Regions from separate parts of the Homo sapiens genome. Here region 1 is linked to region 2. The links come from fine-mapping of genetic effects on gene expression. A gene starts in region 2. The other region holds a variant in brackets. All regions are shown on one strand. Distances are between the middles of the regions. Region 1 overlaps LOC101928105 (a long non-coding RNA gene). Region 2 holds the start of SIAH2 (siah E3 ubiquitin protein ligase 2).

What was found. PIP is the estimated chance that this variant, and not a neighbour inherited with it, causes the effect.
Region 1: its variant is fine-mapped to the expression of SIAH2 in whole blood (TOPMed, PIP above 0.99).

Annotation. Positions count from the first base shown.
Region 1 is chr3:150,724,451-150,735,576 of GRCh38, reverse strand. LOC101928105 (a long non-coding RNA gene) reads left to right here. Exons shown (of 3, transcript NR_121657.1): 3 at 713-1,106. Among named protein-coding and RNA genes, the nearest start is that of ERICH6, 26 kb to the right of the region's middle. RefSeq lists cis regulatory regions at 1,580-2,271, 5,520-5,912 and enhancers at 7,678-8,177, 9,422-9,921, 9,922-10,423. The variant C/T (reference allele first, on the strand shown) is at 5,685.
Region 2 is chr3:150,759,741-150,770,866 of GRCh38, reverse strand. SIAH2 (siah E3 ubiquitin protein ligase 2) reads left to right here and starts at 7,698. Exons shown (of 2, transcript NM_005067.7): 1 at 7,698-8,434. The coding sequence starts at 8,018. It overlaps SIAH2-AS1 (SIAH2 and CLRN1 antisense RNA 1), which reads right to left and starts at 8,930. Exons shown (of 3, transcript NR_187306.1): 1 at 8,887-8,930; 2 at 8,460-8,528; 3 at 2,192-2,322. LOC124909447 (a long non-coding RNA gene) reads left to right here and starts at 236. Exons shown (of 2, transcript XR_007096132.1): 1 at 236-303; 2 at 3,227-3,351. RefSeq lists enhancers at 6,703-6,762, 7,281-8,227, 10,044-10,143 and a silencer at 7,273-8,172.

The DNA of each region.
Region 1 (11,126 bases), 35 kb after region 2:
CATCAAGATGAGGGGAACTCCTAGACAGTACGGCATCACAGAACCCCAGGAAAAAAATCTGGCTCAAGTAGAACAGAGGAGTTAGCCACTGAGAAGACAATCGAGGTCATGGCAAGATGTCAAGAGCAGTCTCATGGAGTGGAGAAGACAGAAGCCCAGAGGAGAGCAGGTGAGGGAGAGAACAGGGCATGGGTGAGGAGAGGAGGCAGGAGCTATAGCTATAGAGCTATAGACAAGTTGCTATAGACAAGGCTTTTAAGAAGTTCCGCAGAGAAGACGTAGAGAAATGAAGCAGTTGCTGCAGGAGAATAGTGGGATCAATGAAAGATTTTTTTGTGTTTTAAAAATTGGAGCCACTAGAGCATGGCACTGTGCCAATGGGAAGGATCCAAAAGAGAGAGCGAAATGGATGATGTGGAGAAGGAGGCAATCACAGCGGGGGCAAAGTAATCAGAAAGACAAGTTTCCAGGGCAGATTACTTACTTATGCAGTAGAGATGGTCAGGAAGCAGCCATTATTGAAATAGAGAGAGGTGGGAAAAAAATTGTGCCAACAAGCAAGGGTTGAAGCAAATTATGTTTAGAAGGCCCTGGTGAGGGCGTCTGTGCATATCCAGCCCTGAACAGGAGAAAGGCACTGGCTGCAGCTCAGTCTAGAACATCCCAGGCATCTGAGAGGTTTACACCTTAGCAAGCTGTGGTGTTTTTCTAGGTTCCATGAAAACCTGGAAGAAATATTCCTGAGGACCATCCAACACCATTTCCCTGAGAGACAAGCTGTAAGTGCTGTTCTAGTTACAGATCCGAGTCCCTGGTACATTGATATCAAGTAAGGGTGCATGCAGCTCAGAAGGCAGTTTCCATTACACTGGACAAGAGTGTGGCTGCCTGAGTCCTAGAACTGCAGTGGCTTCTGCTGACAATGTGAGGAGTAGCTGCCCTGTCCAGAGTGTGGCCCCGCACGCTGCCCCCTCCCCTGGAGGGACTGAAGAGAACAGCTTGGAGCATGCCCTTCCCTTTCCCTTATCTCGCCCACTATGCTAATGCTGCTCATCCCTCAAGATCCGAGTTATTCCTCCTCAATTCAATACACACCAATCAACTGCCCTGTGCTTGGTCCTGTACTTTATATCCTTGATATGGTTTAATTTTCAAAACAAAACACCTTGAGGTGGGTATTATCACTCCCATTAACAAACAAGAAGGTGGGGGCTCAGAGAGGCTAAGTAACTTGCCCAAAGTCACACAGCTTGTAAGCAGTGAAAATGGGATTTACACTCAGGAATGTAGCCCTTCCAACAGCCCTGCTGCCTGCAAAAGTGACTCAGATATGGACTTTACAGTCTAGCAGAAGTCTGAAAGCATCAAACAAAGAGGCAACTTACAGTAGCATGAAATATGCAACCACAACTACATCAACTATGTTTGCAAAGCAAGTTAAGACAAGGACGTACAAATTGCTATGGAGTTCAAAAGAGGATTGGAAAAGGCTTCCGGGAGAAAGCAGCGCGTGCATTGGGCCTTGGGTGTTGGGTAGGTTTTTGCAAGGCTGAGGTAGTTAGGAGGATGTGCCAAGAGATCAGCCTCTCCTGGATCAAGACCAAACCACTCAATGCCTAAGTCCAGCCTTGTCCACCTCCCATCCACTTCTCAGGGCTATTCTTCTCTCACACTTCCTTTGTTCCCGCGTTCCTGACACCCACACAAGGTCAGACACGTAGAACGTGCCGAGTGAATATCAAAGTTCAGCAGTGTCTTGTCTGGTCCCTAATTCTAATCTATCCTTTAACCCATCCTCATACTAGCTAAATTTCAGGACGAACCCTGTCCACAATAAAAACTACTTCTTCTAGAGAATTTGCCCTGCCCATAGTTCCTGGAACACCCCATGCAAACCCCCCACTAATTCACACACCCACAAACTTGTAATGCAGGCCACAGCTGATAAGACCTTACCCAGGCCAGCGGTTCATTGGCTGAGCAGCCACCAGTCAGATTCTCTTGAGAGAGTCAAAGACAGTCAGTGGTGTGCACCAGAGTCACACAGCCCTGGAAAGTCAGCACACTAGCAAAGGAAAAGCCTTGATAGCAAGAGGCCCCTAGGGGTGGAGGGAGCAGCCACTGCCGCCCACCCTGCCAGGTCCTAATCCCTCCCCAGGGAGCCCAGAAACACTCCATTTCCTGCTTTGAGGCATCTTGGAGACAGCCTGCTGTGCCTTCACAATTAATTCTTCTTATCACTTTTTTTTTCAATTTTAGACCATATTTATTCACTCCCACCACCAAAATTGAAGAAAGTAACACACAAAGTTTCTCCCTCCTTCTAATTTTGCTTAATTTTATGATTATTGCTGTCAAGATGTATAACTTTTTTTTTTTTTTTGAGATGGAGTCTCTCTCTGTTGCCCAGGCTGGGGTGCAGTGGTGCCATCTTAGCTCACTGCAACCTCCGCCTCCCGGGTTCAAGCGATTCTCCTGCCTCAGCCTCCGAGTAGCTGGAATTACAGGCACCTGCCACCATGCCCGGCTAATTTTTGTATTTTTAGTAAATACAGGGTTTCACCATGTTGGCCAGGGTGATCTTGAACTCCTGACCTCAAGCAATCCACCCGCCTCAGCCTCCCAAACTGCTGAGATTACAGGCGTGAACCACTGCACCCAGCCAAGATGTATAACTTTTAAAAAAACATTTTATTAGTAAATTTTCAAAAGGAAGGAGAATAATATAACGAATTCGATGTGTTATCACCAACTTCAACCATTATCAACTCTTGGCCAGCTGTCCTGCATCTATACCCTCACCTACATCCACGTGTGGATTTCTTTGAATCAAATCCCAGGCATCATATCATTTCATCTGTATATGTTTCAGTATAGAATATCTAAAGATTAGGACTTTGAAACATACTCACAATACTGTTTTTATATCTATAAAAATTATAAATTTTAATATAATCAAATATCCAGTCAGAGGTCACATTTCTCTGGTTGATATACAGTCTGTTTGAACTGGGATACATATATAAGATCCTTACATTGCTACTGATAAAATGCTTATGTCTTTTTTAATCTACAGATTCTCCCTCCATCTCTTCTCCTTTCTTGAAGTTATTTATTGAAAAACCCAGGGTTCCTATAGCAGAGTTTCCTATAGTCTCATTGCAACCCCAGAATATCATTTTATCAGATTCAGATTTGATTTTTCTTTTTATAAGACTGCTTCAAACCAACCAGGGAACTGTTGGGGAGGAAAAAAAAGAAGACTGCTTCATAGGTGATGGTAGTGATGTGTATGTCTATAACACAAAGGACAATGGCTGTTGCTCTCTTCCTCTAACTCTGTCTGTCTCTTTTAGTGATATTATCGGCCATTGATGGCTCATATTCACTTGTGAGGCATTACAGAATGATCTTTCAAATCATTCCTTTTTTATGAACTGGAAAACTTCTATAGTGACAAACTTCCTCTTTTCAACTATTGGTTTACCGTAAGGTACATTTTACAAGGGAAAGATAACATAAATGCCTGATTATTTTCCTTTATCAGTTTTCAAAACAATGAGGTAGTTTTCTAGCATCCTCCAAAAATAAAACCAATGAAGTAACATTTTAAAAATATATCAGGCAGGCCAGGCATGGTGGCTCATGCCTGTAATCCCAGCACTTTGGGAGGCCAAGGCAGGCAGATCATCTGAGGTCAGGAGTTCGAGACCAGCCTGGCCAAAATGGTGAAACCTCGTCTCCACTAAAAATACAAAAGTTAGCCAGGTGTGGTGGTGCATGCCTGTAGTCCCAGCTACTTGGGAGGCTGAGGCAGGAGAATCATTTGAACCTGGGAGACAGAGGTTGCAGTGAGCCGAGATCACACCACTGCACTCCAGCCTGGATGACAGAGCAAGACCCTGTCTCAAAAACTAAAAATCATTATGTCTCTTAAAAAAAAGAATATCATTATGAATTCATGGATTTTAACTTTTTTATGTATTTCAATTCATTGCCATTATTATCCTTGTTGATACTCATATCATTCCATCTTGGCCTGACAAATGCATATTCAGCTTGGTTCCTGAGTGCTTTTGACATGATCACAAATAGCCTCTGATGTTCCAGGCTCATCTTGTTCTTTTCCTGCACTCAACATGTAATCAACGATGTCTTCAAGGAACCTTGATTTCTTTAGTGTGAAACAATGATTCAAGACCACAGTCTAGGCAGTAGGAGCCCCCGTTATTCAAACTTGAGCCAGTTTGAATGGATTTTCTACCCTGGAGCTGAATAGATGTTGACTAGAATTCTCAATGTTTCCACCAAAATAAGTTATGAAAGAAGCAAATCTGGTCACACAAATCTAATTTAAAATCTTCCCTTTTTTAGACAAGAGTGTCAAGATAATTCAATGGAGAAAGAATAATTGTTTCAACAAATGGGACAACTGGATATTCACATGCAAAAGAATGAAGTTGGATCCCTGCCTCATGCATGTGTGTGTGTGTGTATATATATATAAAAATTTACATGACAGACAGACACTGTCCTTTGTGTTATAGATGTACCCATCACCACCATCAACTATGAAGCCATCAGGGTTTTTTCCCCAATAGTTCCCTGGTTGGTTTGAAGCAGTCTTGTAAAAAGGAAAATCAAATCTGAATCTGAGCAGATTATATTCTTGGGCTGCAATGAGACTATAGGAAACTCTGCTATGGGGAACCTGGGTTCTTCAATAAATAATTTCAAGAAAGCAAAAGAGATAGAAGGAGAATCTATAGATTAAAAGAGACATAAGCATTTCATCAGAGGCAATGTAAGAATGTTTCTATTATATATTACATATTATATATTCATTCATTTATCCAACACACATATATACATACTGCTTCCCTACACTATGCCAGGTACTGTTCCATACACAAAGGATCCAGCAAAATGTACAAAAACTCTAGCCCTTGGCTGGGCATGGTGGCTCATACCTGTAATCACAGCATTCTGGCAGGCCAAGGCTGGCAGGTCACTTGAAGCCAGGAGTTTGAGACCAGACTGGCCAACATGGTGAAACCCAGTCTCAACTAAAACTACAAAAAAAAATTAGCCAAGCGTGGTGGTACAAGCCTGTAGTCCCAGCTACTCAGGAGGCTGAGGCACAAGAATTGCTTGAACCCAGGAGGTGGAGGTTGCAATGAGCTGAGATTTCACCACTGCAACTCCAGCCTGGGTGACAGAGTGAGACCCTGTCTTCAAAACAAAATAAAACAAACAAGCAAAAAACCTCTAGCCTTTGTGTTGCTTACATTGTCATGGAGAGAAGAAGGCAATAAACAAAATATATGCAAAGATTTTATACAGTATAATACATTGAAGATAGTCAATGCTATGGAGAAAAATAAAGCAGGTAGAAGGGATGGTCAGTAGGGGAGTAGGGGAGAGGAGGGATCGCAGTTATAAACAGAGTGATATTTGAGCAAATGCTTGACGGAGGTGAGGGAATGAAACATGCAGCTAATTGGAGGAAAAACATTCTAGGCAGGGGAAATAACAAGTCCAAAGGCCCTGAGGTGTGCATGTCTCGTGTGTTCAAGGAATATCCAGGGAGCGGAGTCCGGGGAAGGAAAGTAGGAGCTGAGGTGAGAAAGTGCGAGGAGAGAAAAACTTTGCTATTTTATTGGAGCAGAGCACAGCGGCGTGTT[C/T]ATGTCTAAAAAGAGTAGAAATTATTCTGGATGGTGACTCCACAAGGGGAACATATGCAGCTTGCCTGGTTTCAAGATAAGGGCCATAATCAGTGGCACACAGGAGCCGGCACATACCAACTTGCAACAGTCAAATGTTTAGGAATCTTGAGAGCCAGTTGATAAACACAGCTATTATTAAAAATTAAATTCTAGATTTATAATTAAATAAGTTATATTTAACAGTATTATATTTAACAGTATATATTTAACAGTAGCAGTATTTAGTACTTAGAAAGTGGCAAAAGCAACAAATTGGGGCTTGATTTATTAGTTGTTGTCTAGACTTAAGAAAATGATGACGAAAATGTTAATAATAGAGCTTTAACTTAGAATTATGTCATACTTGGAACCATTACATTGCAAATAGAAAAAAAAGTTGAAGAAATATTTTTCTAGCAGTCAAAAACTACTGCCCAAATCAATAAAGAAGTCACTCACATCATTGATGACACTGATGAACCAGTGAAATTTTGACAAACATCTGAAAGTTAAGGCTTCTTCATTTTAATCTTACTGGTACCAACCAGCATTTATGTCATAATTGCTTGTTTGTCAATATCAACCACAGGTTGGCATACAATATATGCCAAGGGTTCAGCAAAATACAAGGTTCAGATACAACGGTTCAGCAAAAAGCAATGAAAACATTCTGAGGGAATCAATAAGCTATATGGAATTTACAGTTTAGAATACTGTATAATTTCTTATTATTTGTACATTGGGTGCTACAATTCCTTTATATCAGTAAGATTTATCTGACACTTGCATGTGTTAAAAAAAAATTTAATTTCTGGAGCACCAGTTGTTAAACATTTACCAGCACACCTCTGGCTACAATCTGATCAAATCCAATTTTACACATCTTAGAGCCCAGACAGATAGAGGAGAGAGAGGCCTCTCAAGGCAACGAAGCAATTAAAAGGAATGGAGTTACTTCAAAATCATTCTGCTCTAGAATTTGGAGTTGGCCACGCTGGAGACCAAGAATTCCTTTGTGTTTATATTTATGATACCTTCTATTTACAGTAGGTGATTCTAGCTCTCCATTTATGGTAGTGATACAGTTTCCTTTTCAAGTAAACTTGTTTAAAGTACCAAAAAAGACAATTTCGAGAAAAATGTTAAGTAAATGATAAACAGGAAATACACAGAAGTGACAAAAATTCAAATGATGACCTGCAGTATCTCCACTGGGAAACACTAGCTCAATGATTAAGAACTCAGGCTGGCTAGGCACGGTGGCTCACGCCTGTAATCCCAACACTTTGGGAGGCAGAGGTGGGCAGATCACTTGAGGTCAGGAGTTTGAGACCAGCCTGACCAACATGGCAAAACCCCATCTCTACTAAAAATACAAAAATTAGCTGGGCGTGGTGGCAGGCACCTGTAATCCCAGCTACCCAGGACGCTGAGGCAGGAGAATTGCTTGAACCCAGGAGGCGGAGGTTGCAGTGAGCCGAGAACATGCCACTGTACTCCAGCCTGGGCGACAGAGCAAGACTTCCCCTCAAAAAATAAAAGAACTCAGGCTTTCAAGCCATATCTGGGCTCAAATTCAGACACTTCTAATTACCGCTACCTTTGTGAATTCATTGGCCTCAGCGTCCTTGTCCATAAAACAGGCACGCTGCCAACTCCACAGGGTTGCAATGAGTTGTGAGATCCAGGGAAGCCCAGGGCCTGGCACAAATGGGAGCTGACAAAAGAGGGGCTCCAGGGAGAAGCCTCATCTGGGGCCTGGCCTCCTCAGCCCAAAACAGGCAATGCCTTCAACTTTCTCTCTGACGTGTATAAAATGTGAATGTTCACAAGCACACACACGCAACAGCAGCACACACTGTTCCCTGACTCAGCGTTCTCCCCTAAGGCCCTAAGTGCTTCCCTCTCCTATCTGCTGGAGCAGCAGGTTCTTAGGGGTTCCTTAAACCTCAACAGAGCCCTCAGTGACAAGTCCCTGGTTCTGCTGGACACTCTGGTTATAAAGAGGAAAAGACTTCTGCCCTGCCCCAGAGAGCTTTTCCCAGCTAGTGCGGGAGACTGGTAAACAGAGTAGAGCTGGTAAACAGAGTACCTGATGATGACCACGGGAATGGCGTGGTCCCCTAGGTCTCCCTGCAGAGCTCCCGTTGCTCTTCTCTGTTAGTCTTTTTTTTTTCGGGGCGGGGGGGTGATGAAGCCTTGCTCTTGTCGCCCACGCTGGAGTGCAGTGGCATTAGCTCACTGCAACCTCCGCCTCCTGGGTTCAAGTGATTCTCCTGCCTCAGCTTCCCTAGTAGCTGGGATTACAGGTGCCTGCGACAACGCCTGGCTAATTTTTGTATTTTTAGTACAGACGAGGTCTCACCATGTTGGCCAGGCTGGTCTCGAACTCCTGACCTCATGTGATCCACCCACCTCGGCCTCCAAAAGAGCTGGGATTTCGGGCATGAGCCACCGTGCCCGGCCTCTGTAAGGCTCTTTTGTTTGCAAGGAATGGCAACTCGGTCAAGGCCTCAAGTGAAAGGCCTCTATTGTAATAACAATACTGCAGCCAACACTGGCGACATTTGTGCTAGAGAGGCTGCAGTGGCTCCTAGATCCCTGCTCCATGCCTCACCAACTGCTCTGGGCCTGGCAGGCTGACCACTGCGTTTTGTAACCACCTAACAGCCTCATCCTTTGGCCTCCAATCAGATTGGCCTTTGGGTATCATGGGCAGGAGATCAGAGTTAGGGAGAAGTCTTAAGAGTATGCATGCTTTCCACTCCTGCCCTGTAGGGCCAGGTTGGCCCAGCTGCACTCTTGTCCAGACCCCCACAGTTCCTGCCCTGTCACCCTGTTTTGAGGCTGCTGGGTGTCTGATAACTACTTCCTCCCTTCGCCTCATCAGGCCTAGGAGTACTAAAGACTTCTCAGCCAGTTATAGCCCATGGTGTTCCACCATCCTTTGTCCCTTCATCTGACCTATACTTTTGTAAATAGTCTCTCAGCCTCTCCTCAGTTACCCAATTTGGGTGTCCTGCCCAGACCCAGACCGCTACCTGCTTACTGAGTACTTCATATGCACCAGCAGGCCCTTCTCCACATCTTATGCCCATTAACTCATTCAAGCATCAAAACAACCCTATGAAGCAGACACCAGTAACAGCCCAGTTTACAAGTGAGGAACCTGAGAAAGAGTGCTCAGTTACTTACTCAAGTTTACATGGTGGGAAGTAGCATGGCCAGGCAGTGTCTCTGCTGACGCTACTCCGTGTTAGGATATGTACAGGAATAGGAAAGTGCGTGTCTATTTTCACTTCCTGGAGCACAGGACCAGCCACACCAGCAGGTTTCTGGCACTCTGGAGTGTAGTTCAGAAATGGAAATCTCACCAGGCCCCACTGGGGTCTGAAGCCTCACTATCTCCTAGCCGCTGGTGTTGGCACATCGGTGTTACTCAGCCACATTCAGTCTGCTTCTCCTGCTGCCAGCACCCTGCTTCTCTCTGCTCTCCTCCAATCCTCACTACTTCTGCCTAGCATCTTCTCTGTGTATCCTTTGATTTCTACTCCTTACCAACTACTGCCAAAGAGGGGACCACTTGATTCGGACAGCCACTAGTCGACTTTAAAAGTCACTGGTCTCAGCAGGGTGCAGTGGCTCCCACCTGTCATCCCAACATTTTGGGAGGCTGAGGCAGGGATCACTTGAGGCCAGGAGTTCAAGACCAGCCTGGGCAATATAGCGAGACCCTGTCTCTACAAAACAAAAGTAACTGGGCATAGTGGTGTGTGCCTATAGTCCCAGCTACTCAGGAGGTGGAAGGATCACTGTGTCCAGGAGTCCAAGGCTGCGGTGAGCTATGATCATGCCACTGAACTTCCAGCCTGGGTGACAGAGCAAGAACCTGTCTCTAAAAAAAAAAAAAAATTAATTAATTAATTAATAAATATTTAAAAAGTCACTGTCTTTTCCCTGAGTCAGGAGATGCATGGTTACCCGACGAGATATAGGGGTCAATGGGAGGGAAGACACCAGCAGACCCACACAGGATTGTTTCATGGCAAAGTAAACAGAGACACACACGAGCAGGAGATTGCACAGCCTGCTCCCAGGCAAAGGTAGACACATTCTTCTAGTGGGTGGGGAAGTGGATACACCCTCCCAGCCCCTTCCGGCTGTGCTGGAAGCTCTGGCTGCTTGCTGGCTCGCCCCAGTGGCAAGAAGCTGATGCAAAACAACCCTTGCACATTACCATGAGACTAGGCGAGGCGAGACTCAGTTTCCCAGGAGCACCCCAGCAGACTGGGGCCTCAGGCCTACCCCAAGTCCATTCCTGCAGGTGTCCACTGGCCAGCAGTCATGGCGACAATGAGAGGGCCACCTAGTGCAGAAATACAGACCAGGCCATCAACGCAAAAGAAGCCAGTGAGGGCCCGTTCGCTGACCTCTCGGAGTGTAGCAGGCACCCAGGTCTTGACAGACTCCTCTATAGCACATTCCTAAGGCACCCTCCGCTCCAGTCTCCCTGAACTTCCCACAGTTCACAAACATACCGAGTTCTTTCACGACTCTGTGTCTCTGCCCAGACTAGTCTCTCAGCCCAGAAGGTCTTTTCCCACCTTGTTCCTGTAAACTACTTCCTGTTCATCCTTTAAAAGACGCTCCTGAGAAAACCTCCTCAGATACCCCAAGCCAGATCAGCTGTCCTGTCTCCTGTGTTCTTCCTTCCTGGTTCTCTGGAACAGCATTCACCTTGTGATACACTGACTTTTTTTTTTTTTAAGCTGTCTGTTCTCTCTCTCTCTTAAACCAAGAACTCCTCAAGAGCAAGGCCTGTGACTGATTCCGTTTTATATTTTAGGGCCCTTTCCCAGACCAGGAGCACACTAGATGTTCCCCAGGCAAGTATTAAAGAACTGAATAGATGAAGAGCAAGGAACATCATCAAAAAACAGCAAATAGGGTGGTGACTGTTGTTTCCCCAAAGCAAGCAGAGCCTGAGACAAAGCTTATATGAAGTTTATTTAGGAAATGCTGGGCATGGTGGCTCTCACCTGTAATCCCAGCACTTTCAGAGGCCAAGGTGGGCAGATCACCTGAGGTCAGGAGCTCGAGACCAGCCTGGCAAAGTTATACACATTCTTATGGTGTATACTACATGGTGAAACCCCCATCTCTACTAAAAATACAAAAATTAGCCAGGCGAGGTGACATGTGCCTGTAATCCCAGCTACTCAGGAGGCTGAGGCAGGAGAATCGCTTGAACCCAGGAGGCAGAGGTTGCAGGGAGCCGAGATCACACCACTGCACTCCAGCCTGGGCAACAGAGCGAGGCTCCCTCTAAAAAAAAAAAAAAAAAAAAAAAAAAAAGACATTTATTTAGGAAAGTGATTCCAGGCAACAGACTGAAGGACTGAAGAGGGGAGTAGGGGAGGA
Region 2 (11,126 bases):
TATGTCAATTTTGCTGGTTCTCAGTGATCCACACTGTCTGTTGGGTTAGGCTGGCGTGGACGAGGCTCTTTGGGGGAATCTCAGATCAGACTTAGGGATGTGGGGATGGAGAATAAGGAGATTATTCCGGACTCTCTCCCCTCTGCCTTTCTTCACTTCTCACTAAGGGATAGAGATCTAAGAACAAACAGTCCTAGGAGAAATGCTGTATATGCAACTCTGCCTCAACAGCGGGTTCAGAAAGGAGGCCAGCAGGGATCCAAGGATGGTTCCTAGAGGAGAGAGGACAGAAGACTCCCCAAGGTAGGAAAGTTTCAGGAGCTCTGTACCTTCGGGTATACGCTGCCCTCTCTCTGGACTGCAGTCTTTACCCTCTTCTTTGGTTGTCACATTCCTACTCTTGCTTTTTCTTGATGTCTTCCTCACACTTGCCCAGGAAGTGCTGAACTTCACCCTCCTCTCCTTTCCCATCTCCATAATACACGTATCACACTGTATTAGATTTTCCATATGATGTCTGGCAGGACAGCCAAATGGTTAAGAGCACAGTCACTGGAGTTAAAACAGCCTGGATCCAAATCATGTTTCTGTCACTTATCAGCATGTGACCTAGGACAAGGGATTAAACCTCCTCTTGGAGGTTTGTTCATCGCTTAAAGGGGATTAATAGACTACATGCCTTAGAGCGTTCTAATAAGGATTAAATGCCATGTGCTTAAAAGAGTGTCTGGGGGCCGGGCACAGTGGCTCACGCCTGTAATCCCAGCACTTTGGGAGGCCGAGGTGGGTGGATCACCTGATGTTAGGAGTTTGAGACCAGCCTGATCAACATGGAGAAACCCTGTCTCTACTAAAGATAAAAAATTAGCAGCGCATGGTGGCTCATGCCTGTAATCCCAGCTACTCAGGAGGCTGAGGCAGGAGAATCGCTTGAACTCGAGAGGTGGAGGTTGTGGTGAGCCTAGATCACACCATTGCACTCCAGCCTGGGCAACAAGAGTGAAACTCCATCTCAAAAAAAAAAAAAAAAAGAAAAGAAAAAAAAAAGAGTGTCTGATATCCAGTGAGCATTGTGTAAGGGTTTTATAATTAATGTTATTCCCCTACCAGGCTACTATCTCTCCAAAAATCAAGCCTGGGCTTGATATTATCCATGGCCTCCAAATATGACACTATTGACTGAATAAATCTTTGCACTTAGCCAGCTGACCAGTGGCCACAACCTGGCTCATAACCTTCATCTCTACTCGACCCAGGAAGCCCCTCTTGGAGCACTAGATCCTCCAACCTATTTCCTTCTTTCTGGGATCTCCAAGTTATACTCACATACTGCCTTTGGGTTACTCTTCTTAAATTTAATATTTAATATTAATTTAAATTTAATATTAATTTCAGCAAGTCACCTCTCAGACCCAAAGACCTGACTGAAGCTCCTAGTTCCTTTCTCAGCAGTATAATGCCCACCTTTTCTGGCTGGCTAGTCTTTATCACCCATTTTGGCACCAACCCTGCAGCTAAATAAATCCTTCACTAAAATAACCCCCAGAAAGGCAAGGACAACACACTTTTTAAAAAATAACACACGAAACACATGAATAAATTCTCATTGTACAAACAAAAAAGAACAAGAGAAGAAAAAAGAAATAAACTCCAGAAATATAGGAAGTATGTATGTTTTCCATACTGCATATCCATTCACATTCCCCCTCCCTGGAGGCAGCTGCTGCCGTCAGTTCACTGTCTTCTTCCAGACCTTTCTATGCCCTTGTAAACATATAGTCATTTTGCCTTGCACGGTATTTTCTACAGAAATGGAATCATTTTGGGTTTTTTGGCTTCAGTGTTTTTTGTTTGTTTGTTTGTTTTTTGAGACGGACTCTCGCTCTGTCGCCCAGGCTGGAGTGCTGTGGCACAATCTAGGCTCACTGCAACTTCTGCCTCCTGGCTTCAAGTGATTCTCCTTGCCTCAGCCTCCCAAGTAGCTGGGACTACAAGTGCCCACCACTAGGCCCAGCTGATTTTTGTAATTTTAGTAGAGACAGGGTTTCACCATGTTGGCCAGGTTGGTCTCAAACTCCTGACCTCAAGCGATCTGCCCGCTTCAGCCTCGCTAAGTGCTGGGATTTCAGGCGTGAGCCACTGTGCCCAGCCACAGTGTGCTTTTTTCATGTAACAAATTGTCTTGGAGAACTTTTCTAAATTGCAGAGGGTTTTATAGGATGGCTTTCCATAGTTCTTTTTCTTATTGATGGACACTGAGGTTGTTTCCAAACTAAATGATGATTTCATTTTCGCACATCTTCTATCACATCAAATTATCATCTGAAAAATATGGATTTACATAAAAATAAGAAATAAGAACATTAATTCTGGTTTTGTTGGTGTTCAATTTTTTTGTTTCTATAGCTGTAAATAACAAAAATAATATTCCTATATTTGTTTCCTTATATTTAAATAGCATTATAATAAAAAATCATTTTACATATAAGCCTTGTGACCTGGGACAGGTGTATTAGTTATATATTGCTGAGTAACAAATGATCCCAAAACTTCATGGCTTAAAACAACAAACACTGAAGCCAGGTGCAGTGGCACACACCTGTAGTCCCAGCAACTTGGGAGGCGGAGGCAGGAGGATTGCTTCAGCCTGGGAGTTCCAGGCTGTAATGCACTATGATTGTGTCTGAGAATGGCCACCGCACTCCAGCCTGGGCAACATAGTAAGACCCTATCTCTAAAAATAAAGATAAAAATAAAAACAGCACATATTCATTATCTCACAGTTTCTGTGTTCAACTCAGCTGAGTCCTCTAGTTCAAGGTGTCACAGGCACAATCACTTGTGAGCCAGGGTTGCAATCATCACAAGGCTCGGCTGAGAGAATCCACTTCCAAACTCACTCACTGTTGGCAAGCCCAGGGTTCTCACTAGCTGTTGGCCAGAGACATCAGTTCCTTGCCACGTGGACCGTTTAGCAGAGCTACTCCCAACATGGTAGCTGGCTTCATCCACAGAGAGGGCTCAGAGAGTGTTACAGACTGAATACTTGTGTCCCCTCAAAATTCACATATTGAAACTGTACTCCCTAATGTGATGATATTAGCAGGCAGGGTCTTTGGGAGGTAATCAGGATTACAGGAGGTGCTAAGGGTGTAGCCCTCATGGAGAGGGTTGGTATCCTTAGAAGAGTCCTGAGGGAGCTTCCTTCCTATCTCTGCTACGTAAGGACACAGTGAGAAGGCTGCCATCTACAAACCAGGAAGCAAGCCATCGCTAGACACCTGTGGCACCTTGACCTTGGTCTCCCCGTCCTCCACAACTGTGAGAAATAAATGTTTGTTATTTAAACCACCCAGTTTATGATATTTTATTATAGCAGCTCGAGCTAAGACAGCAAGCGAGAGGAACGGAGGGACAGTAAGACAGAATTCATAGTCTTTTTTAACCTAATCTCAGAAGTGACATTCTATCACTTTGACCATATTCTGTTCACTTAAAGCAGGATCAGCCCTCATTCACAGGAAAGGTGTTACATATTGGGCGACACCAGGAGGAGGGATCCCTGGGAGCCTTCTTAATGATGACTTCCTACAACTCTCTTGGCCTCTCTGTACCTGTTTTGTCATCTATAAAGATCTACCCTATAAAAGACATTGTGAGAATTAAGAGAATTAAAATATGTAAAGTACTTGGAACACTCCCTGGTACAGGGTGAGCACTAATTAGCTAAGTGTGGATACAAAAATAATGCAAATACATAGAACTGCTCTTAGTACACAGTGCTAAGTCCATGATGGTTGTTCAAAAAAATGCTTGAATTAGGAGTACTTGAGTATAGGAGTTTGAGGCCAGCCTCGGCAACACAGTGAGACCTCTTCTCTACAAAAACTAAAAAACTAGCAGGGCGTGATGGCACGTGCCTGTAGTCCCAGCTACTCAGGAGGATCCTTTGAGCCTGGGAGGTTGAGGCTGCAGTCAGCCATGATCCAGCCACTGCATTAAGCCTAGGTGACAGAGTGAGACCCTGTCTCAAAAAAAAAAAAAAAGATTTGAATTAAGAGACCTACAATTATTCAAAAGAAGTTTGAGCATTTGGAAATTACCCCAGAAACAGATGAAGTTAAAAGTTCCTACTATAATTACCAGGGGGCCTTACATCACCTCCAGATTTCCCACAAGCTTCCCCTGATGAGGAATTTCCATGCAGCAAGCTCCAATGCATACCTGAGTCATCTCTAAAAAGCCAACCACAATTTGCTCTGCAAATGCACATTTGCCTGATGGCAGAAGTTGCCTGATTTGCAAAACCACACAATTTGTAAGTTACAGAAAAAAGGGCAAGAGCTTGTCTGCCTAGCTGGAGCATTTCTCACTGTGCTCAGCAGTTTAGTGAAATTAGGAACTCACCTGTGAGGTGTTTTTTTTAAGACTCACCCTGCTATTTTAAGGAAAGAAAAGGCTACTCAGTACACCCCTAGTCTTTCAAGCTTAGCATAGAGCAGATGGGTTAAGGAGAGGTGTCCTGCTTGACATATGCAATCTGGGACTCAGTAGGTGGGCGAATGAGACCAACCTCTCATACAGTAGATGTGGTAAATGAGTCATGAATCAGGAGATAACAAAAGGCTGGACCCTGCTCCCCCAGACCACAAAGTCACTCACTAAACAGGCCAAGAAGCAGCAGCGACACTCCAAAGGGTAAATAAACCTCCCAACAACTCAACTCAGCACACATTTTGAGTACACGCTAAATTCGACCTCTGAGCGGACTGCCCGCTGGAAGAGGAGGCTCTAGCTCATAGTGCCCGGTATGCAAAGGTCACCTTTCTTTGTTTCAAAAGTCACCAAGGAAGGAGGAAGAAGAAAGGCGACTGGGAAGACCAGCCTGGTCATTGATGTGGCTCACATAGCAGACCTATCCACTCTCCCCCTGCCTACCTTCAGCAACTGCCCAGAGTTTTTTTGTTTTGCTTTTGTATTTTAATTACCCTGGTTGACTTAATCAGGTGTGCAATGATGTGAAGGAGGAAGAAAGAAGAAATTTCTCTATACCAGGGGAGGCATCTGCCAGGGTAAGAGTGGATGGGTTCGCTGTATTTTTAGAAAAATAAACCAAATTCTCTCTGCAGAGAATTGCTTTTCCTGTTATTTCTTTCAACACCTCCCAAACCAAATTGTTTTCTGAATGACCAGGGCCTATCTAGCTGGAACACTTAAAGCTCGTGTCAATGGGGCAAGGGTGAGGACTCCAGTCTCCTAATGAGAGCTAGTAAGAAGCCGTGGGGATGGAGGTCATCACACAGAGAGGCTAGAAGTGGAAGGAAAGAAAATGTGTTCCATTAATAAATTCCAAATGCTTTGATTTTAAATTAAGAATGAAAAATATTACATTTCCTCCAATAACAGTAAAACAGTAGGTGATTTTTGTGTTATCACTTATATTTTGTGTCATAAAAAGGTGAAAATGAAATAAATAGAACATGATTTAATTTTTCTCTCTAGACCAGCTAAGGAAAGAGTTTATGTAAAGTTTGCCCACAAAATTTAGTGCTTTATTATAGGCTGAACAACTGTTTTCTGACTCTGTTGAGTGTGCTAATCTTAACTGTTTAACAAGACTGTAAGTAGGAATCAGGCATAATTTAGAGGCATACAGACTAGTAGTTAAGAAGGGCTCCTAGCGTGTTCCCACATTCTCAGCTGTGTGATCTTGAGCAAAGTAACCTATGTCTCGGTTTCCTCAACTGTAAAATGGAGATAACAGTAGTATTCATCACAGAGAGTTATGATAAATACTTAAAACTATCCATGCCCAACATACAGTGGGCACTCAATTAACATTAGTTATTATTTTATGCTCCCTACCTATCCAAAAACTCAGGTTCAGCCATGTTACTAAAGAGCTTCCAAAAACCTACAAAACCTAGTGTTGTTGTGTGTTCTTAAAAAAACAAACAAAACCCTACAGTGGTTTACCCCTATCATTGAGGTAAATGTCTTATTAAGCCAGTTGAGGCTCCCCTTGTGCTAACGCCACACCCCTACACTCCCGTTATATCCCCTCCAAGTCCCAATGCAATCCCAGAATACATGCTTTCACTCTGTGCTTTTTAGCTCCTGCTATAATGCCTGCCCACCCCGTGGTATCTGAAATCCTTCTTCTCCCACGAGTGCTTGGTTATTGGGCCTTGCTCTCTTACTAGAATGTAAACTGCATGAGAACCATTCTCAGAGCTCCAACAGTAGCTGACACATGATAAATGCTCAGGAAACATTTACTGAACGATTGAATACACCTATTAAGTTTTTTCAAGATTTATACCAAATTCCATCAATTCCATGCATGTATTCTTTCTACAGAAGCCCTTTGTAAGATTAAACTTTATTTCTTCTGGGCTCTTACGCCATATTTCTTGGACAAATTGTATTCATTCATTTTAAACATCCACTAATATTTTTAAAAGATAAGAGCTAATGTTTAAACAGTGCTTATGATGGGCGAGGTTGTTTTAAAAGCTTGAAATATATTAAACTCATTTACTCCTCACTGCCCCACCTATAAGATAGGTATTTTTTTTTCCACTTTTACAGTTGGAGGGAACCATTTTTCACTCAGTCCTAACAGTTGGTCCTTACCTCTGTGTCTCCTATAAATTTCCGATTTCTACCTAAGGTAACCCTTTCCCCAATTCCGGAATCGTTGGCTCAAGCAAAGTCTGCAGAAAAACAATTTTAACTCGGAGCACACAGTTACATTTGGACATGCGGTTCACCCCGGGCAACCGTGCCCTCTAGCGCTTCTGCTGGGCGCGCAGGGTGGCCCTACGCCTCGCAACAAAGACTCGGACTTCGGCCGGCTCTCTACCAAGCGGACGCAGCGCCTTACACTGGAGTTTCACCCACTGTCTTCAGAGACCTCACGACCCAACCTACGTTTCTGACATTTCTAGATGATCTCGAACTCTTAGCCAACGCTGCCCATGAGCTCCCTCCTCGGCCTGCTATACGAGCCAGGGGCGCTCAATTCAACGAAGCTTCCTCCTGGTCCGCTGGGAAAGGAATAAAGGGAGCTTACATCCTCCCCACCGCCCCCCTCTTTACTCAACCCCACCGTTAACTGTACAAAACTAGGTCCTGTGCCCGCTGCAGACCCAACTCGAGCCCCTCGCCCTGCTCCCACCCAATGCTTCTCGTCCTGACTCCGAACACAGAACGCGGGTGGCCGCTTCGCCCTCTTCTCCTGCGTGCTGGTGACTCAGCCCTGAGAAGAGAAACCTCTCGGTTTTTTCCGACTAGTGCAGGGGCGCCCGCGCCCCGCCCCTGCCCGCCCGCGTCCGGTCCCACCCACCGTCCACGCTCCCGCCCCGCCTGAAGTTGCCTTTCTCGTTTGAGCTGAGGGACGCGTCAGCCAGGCACCCCGGGGTGTGGCCAGAGGACTTCGGCGACGCTTCCCCGAGAGTAGCCCCCCTCCTCAACCCAGAAAAGACAACCCCGCGGGGCTGCAGCGAGCCAGGCATGCTCACTGGCGCAGGCCCGGCCCGCAGCCCGAGCAGGAAGCGCCGGCGCTAGGCGGCCCCCTGCGCTGCCAGCTGGAGCCGGGCGGAGCCAGCGCCCCGGCGCAGGGTGGCTCTGCCAGTCCCCGCGCGCCTGGGCGGCCGCACACGTGTCCAGGCGTCACGTCCGCGCGCGCCCCCGGGGCTTGCGTCAGCGGCTGTTCCAGAAGCGGGTGGGCCAGGGCTCTGCGCACCGCTGGGGTTCGGGGCCCGGGACGCCGCCGGGAGGAGGGCACCGCGCGGGGTCCGACGCGGAGGCGTGCTCGGAACGCCGGGGGCTGCGGAGTGCATCAGCGCGGTCCAGCCCTCCGCCTGCCGGGCGCCGAGCGTCTCCGCCGCCCGGACCTGGGCTGGGCGCCGTGGCGTTGCCTCGGAGCTCGCTGCCCGCGGGGCGCGCACCGCCTTGACCCGGGCGGCCCCGCGGCAGGCAGGCGCCCGCAGTTCCATGGTTGGTTCGGAGCGCGATGAGCCGCCCGTCCTCCACCGGCCCCAGCGCTAATAAACCCTGCAGCAAGCAGCCGCCGCCGCAGCCCCAGCACACTCCGTCCCCGGCTGCGCCCCCGGCCGCCGCCACCATCTCGGCTGCGGGCCCCGGCTCGTCCGCGGTGCCCGCCGCGGCGGCGGTGATCTCGGGCCCCGGCGGCGGCGGCGGGGCCGGCCCGGTGTCCCCGCAGCACCACGAGCTGACCTCGCTCTTCGAGTGTCCGGTCTGCTTTGACTATGTCCTGCCTCCTATTCTGCAGTGCCAGGCCGGGCACCTGGTGTGTAACCAATGCCGCCAGAAGTTGAGCTGCTGCCCGACGTGCAGGGGCGCCCTGACGCCCAGCATCAGGAACCTGGCTATGGAGAAGGTGGCCTCGGCAGTCCTGTTTCCCTGTAAGGTAAGCCCAGGGACAGCCCACGTACCTCCGCCGGTGACCTCAGGGACTCCGGTATCCGCCAGCCCACTCGCAGGCCCGGAGAGGCGGGCGGCATCTCTCATTTAAAAAAAAAAAAGAAAAAATGTTTACACTTCGTCCACCCTCCCTCAAGCCCACTTTGGGTGTAGGTCTGGGTTGACATTTACCGAGTAATAATTGTTAATAGACAATTAACAGATTAATTGGCATTTGCTGATCGTTAGAACATCGTAGCTCACCCGGCCCAATGCCCGCGTCCTCTGCAGACGTGTATTCGGGTACTCTCGGTAGGGCTGGGCCGCACCAGTAAAACTTGGACCGAGAAACTGACTGTGTGGGGATTGAGGAGGGAGGAAACGGGCGAGCTAAACGCCCCCTTTACCAGCGCTGGGCTCGGCTGAATTGATAATTGGAGTCCTGCACCCCGCGCCTACCGTCTGCGCACCCCTGACACGTGGGAGCTCTCGGGATTGTAGCTAAAAAAAGGGCGCCTACAGCCTGTTTTCCTCTAGCTAGAAGAAAACCCTGCAAGCCACGCCTTTTTCTCTCCTAGCCTTCCAAAGACTGGGAAGGACTGAGGAGTTGTGGCTGCGTTGTTGTACTAAGTGGGGTGAAAACAGTCAATCAAGAAATTAACAAGGGCACTCAAGAGCTGTTGTTACAGTTGTTTAAAGCTCATCACTTCATTTTTTATTTAATGTAAAAAGTTTTCAATGCCCTTGCGAAAAATGCAAGCCACCAAGACAAGAAGTAAAATGAAAGACCAAGATCTCTCCCCTCCTTTCCCACCATTGTTAGGTTTAGTGTGTATCTTTTTAAACTATATATACATACACCCTCGCAGCTAAATATAGAATCATAGATGTCAGTGTATGTCAGGGAGGTTTTTTAATACCCACACATAGATGTAAGTTTTTCTCCAAAAATGGCATCTGCAACTTGCTGTTCTTAAATTCATATTATCACACATATTTCTCTATGCCTGAAACCTAGTCGACTTCATTGTATTTTAAATGGCTGCATAGTATTGCATTGTGTGGTCATATTATAACATTTGTTTACCTGCAGCTATTACGTGGAAACCTTCAGGAGCAGTTTCACAGACATACTTGTCTACGTTATAACCTAGAAGTATACTGTAAAGTCATTTTCTGAAATTAGAAGTGGAGATAATGTCACTAATACTTTCCAGTTTTTTTGTAAAAGTAACTTGCGCTGCCTCTTGGGCCATTTAAGCTGTCTTGCATTTCTCCTTGGTGCTGCTTATTTTATAGGACAAGAGCTCATTTTTAAATTAAAAATAATCCACCAGAGAATTCAGGCTTGGGACTCAGGTCAGTAAAATGAGTGCTTTAATTTGGTCTGCTGCCCTGCTGCAAATCAGGTTTAAAATAGCATATTTAAATAAGAGTTTGAATCGGTGTTTGGACTAGGGTGTTTCAGGCAACCTTAATAAATTGCTGTTAACCCCTCCTCATATAGTGCTTACTAATTCACTCAGCCCAGTTTCTCAAAATTTAGATAAAGTATTTGCATAGTTGTCTTAGGGTTGTGAAAAAGGTGACAACCTAGTGGTTGGAAAAGGTTTGGTGGTAGTTAACATAGAGTGGCTATTTGATGCTTGAGATATATTGCAGGGGTGGGGGATGCCCCATAGGATTTCTGGGGAGCCATTTTCTCACCCCTTTACTTTCCCTTAAACGCGCAGCGGCTAACAAAAGAAATGGCTTTTAGGTGAGTTTTAGTTCACAAATGAGCATTTGATATTAGTCAGTAATCCATAATTTGTTTTTAAAATGTAACCATAATAGAATTGTGTTGTTCCCAAGAGAAAGGGAAGGAAACAGTTATGCTATATGGAGCATGAAGTTTCACTTTCAGGATCTAGAACTCTGGTTCCTATGAAAGCATACGTTCTTTCCTAACGTGAAACAGGCTACTGAAATCAACCTTGAAGAGTAGTTCTGGGAATCAGGGGTTCTCAGCCTTTCTGTACATGTCAGTGGTTTTCTGAGTCTCTATTCTATAAGAATGCAGTGGGGTAAAGCTATTACTTTGCAAGCTGAAATTTAAAAGGGCCAATTATTCCCCTGCAGACCAAGAACCAAGCTTAGGATGTGATCTTGGGGATGCTTTTGTGTGTGCATGTGTGTGAGTTGTATAAAGCTGGGGTGTGTGTCCCTCACCTTTGGTTGATCAATAATCCAAACTATTGGCAGGGCAGCTCAGCCAGTTAGTCTGGATAAACCAAACTTGAATGTATACATAGGCCCAGCGACCAACCAAGATGTGTTAGTTGTAGAGGATGAGAAACAACAGAGAGCCGTAAGGCCTGTATCAAACTTAAAACAAGGCAGATCTGTTTACCTAGCCCTTTGGCCTACAGTTTGAGGCTCCTAGAAATTATGGGACTGCCTTTTTACTGTCCCCACCTGCTCTCAGAATCTCTCATGGGCTGGCTCATGTGAAAAAAACCAACGTTGAATAAAGTACCAGAGCCCACATCTCAAGAGCTGCCACTGTTTGCCTGAAAGACCACCTCCCAGGGCCTTGATTTCCTCATCTATACAAATGAGAGATGAATCTGCTTGACTTCTAAGGACCTGTAGCTTCTAGCATTCTATGAAAAGAAGGGAGGCTATCTGGAATGTTATTGGATGCCCTCTATCTGCCA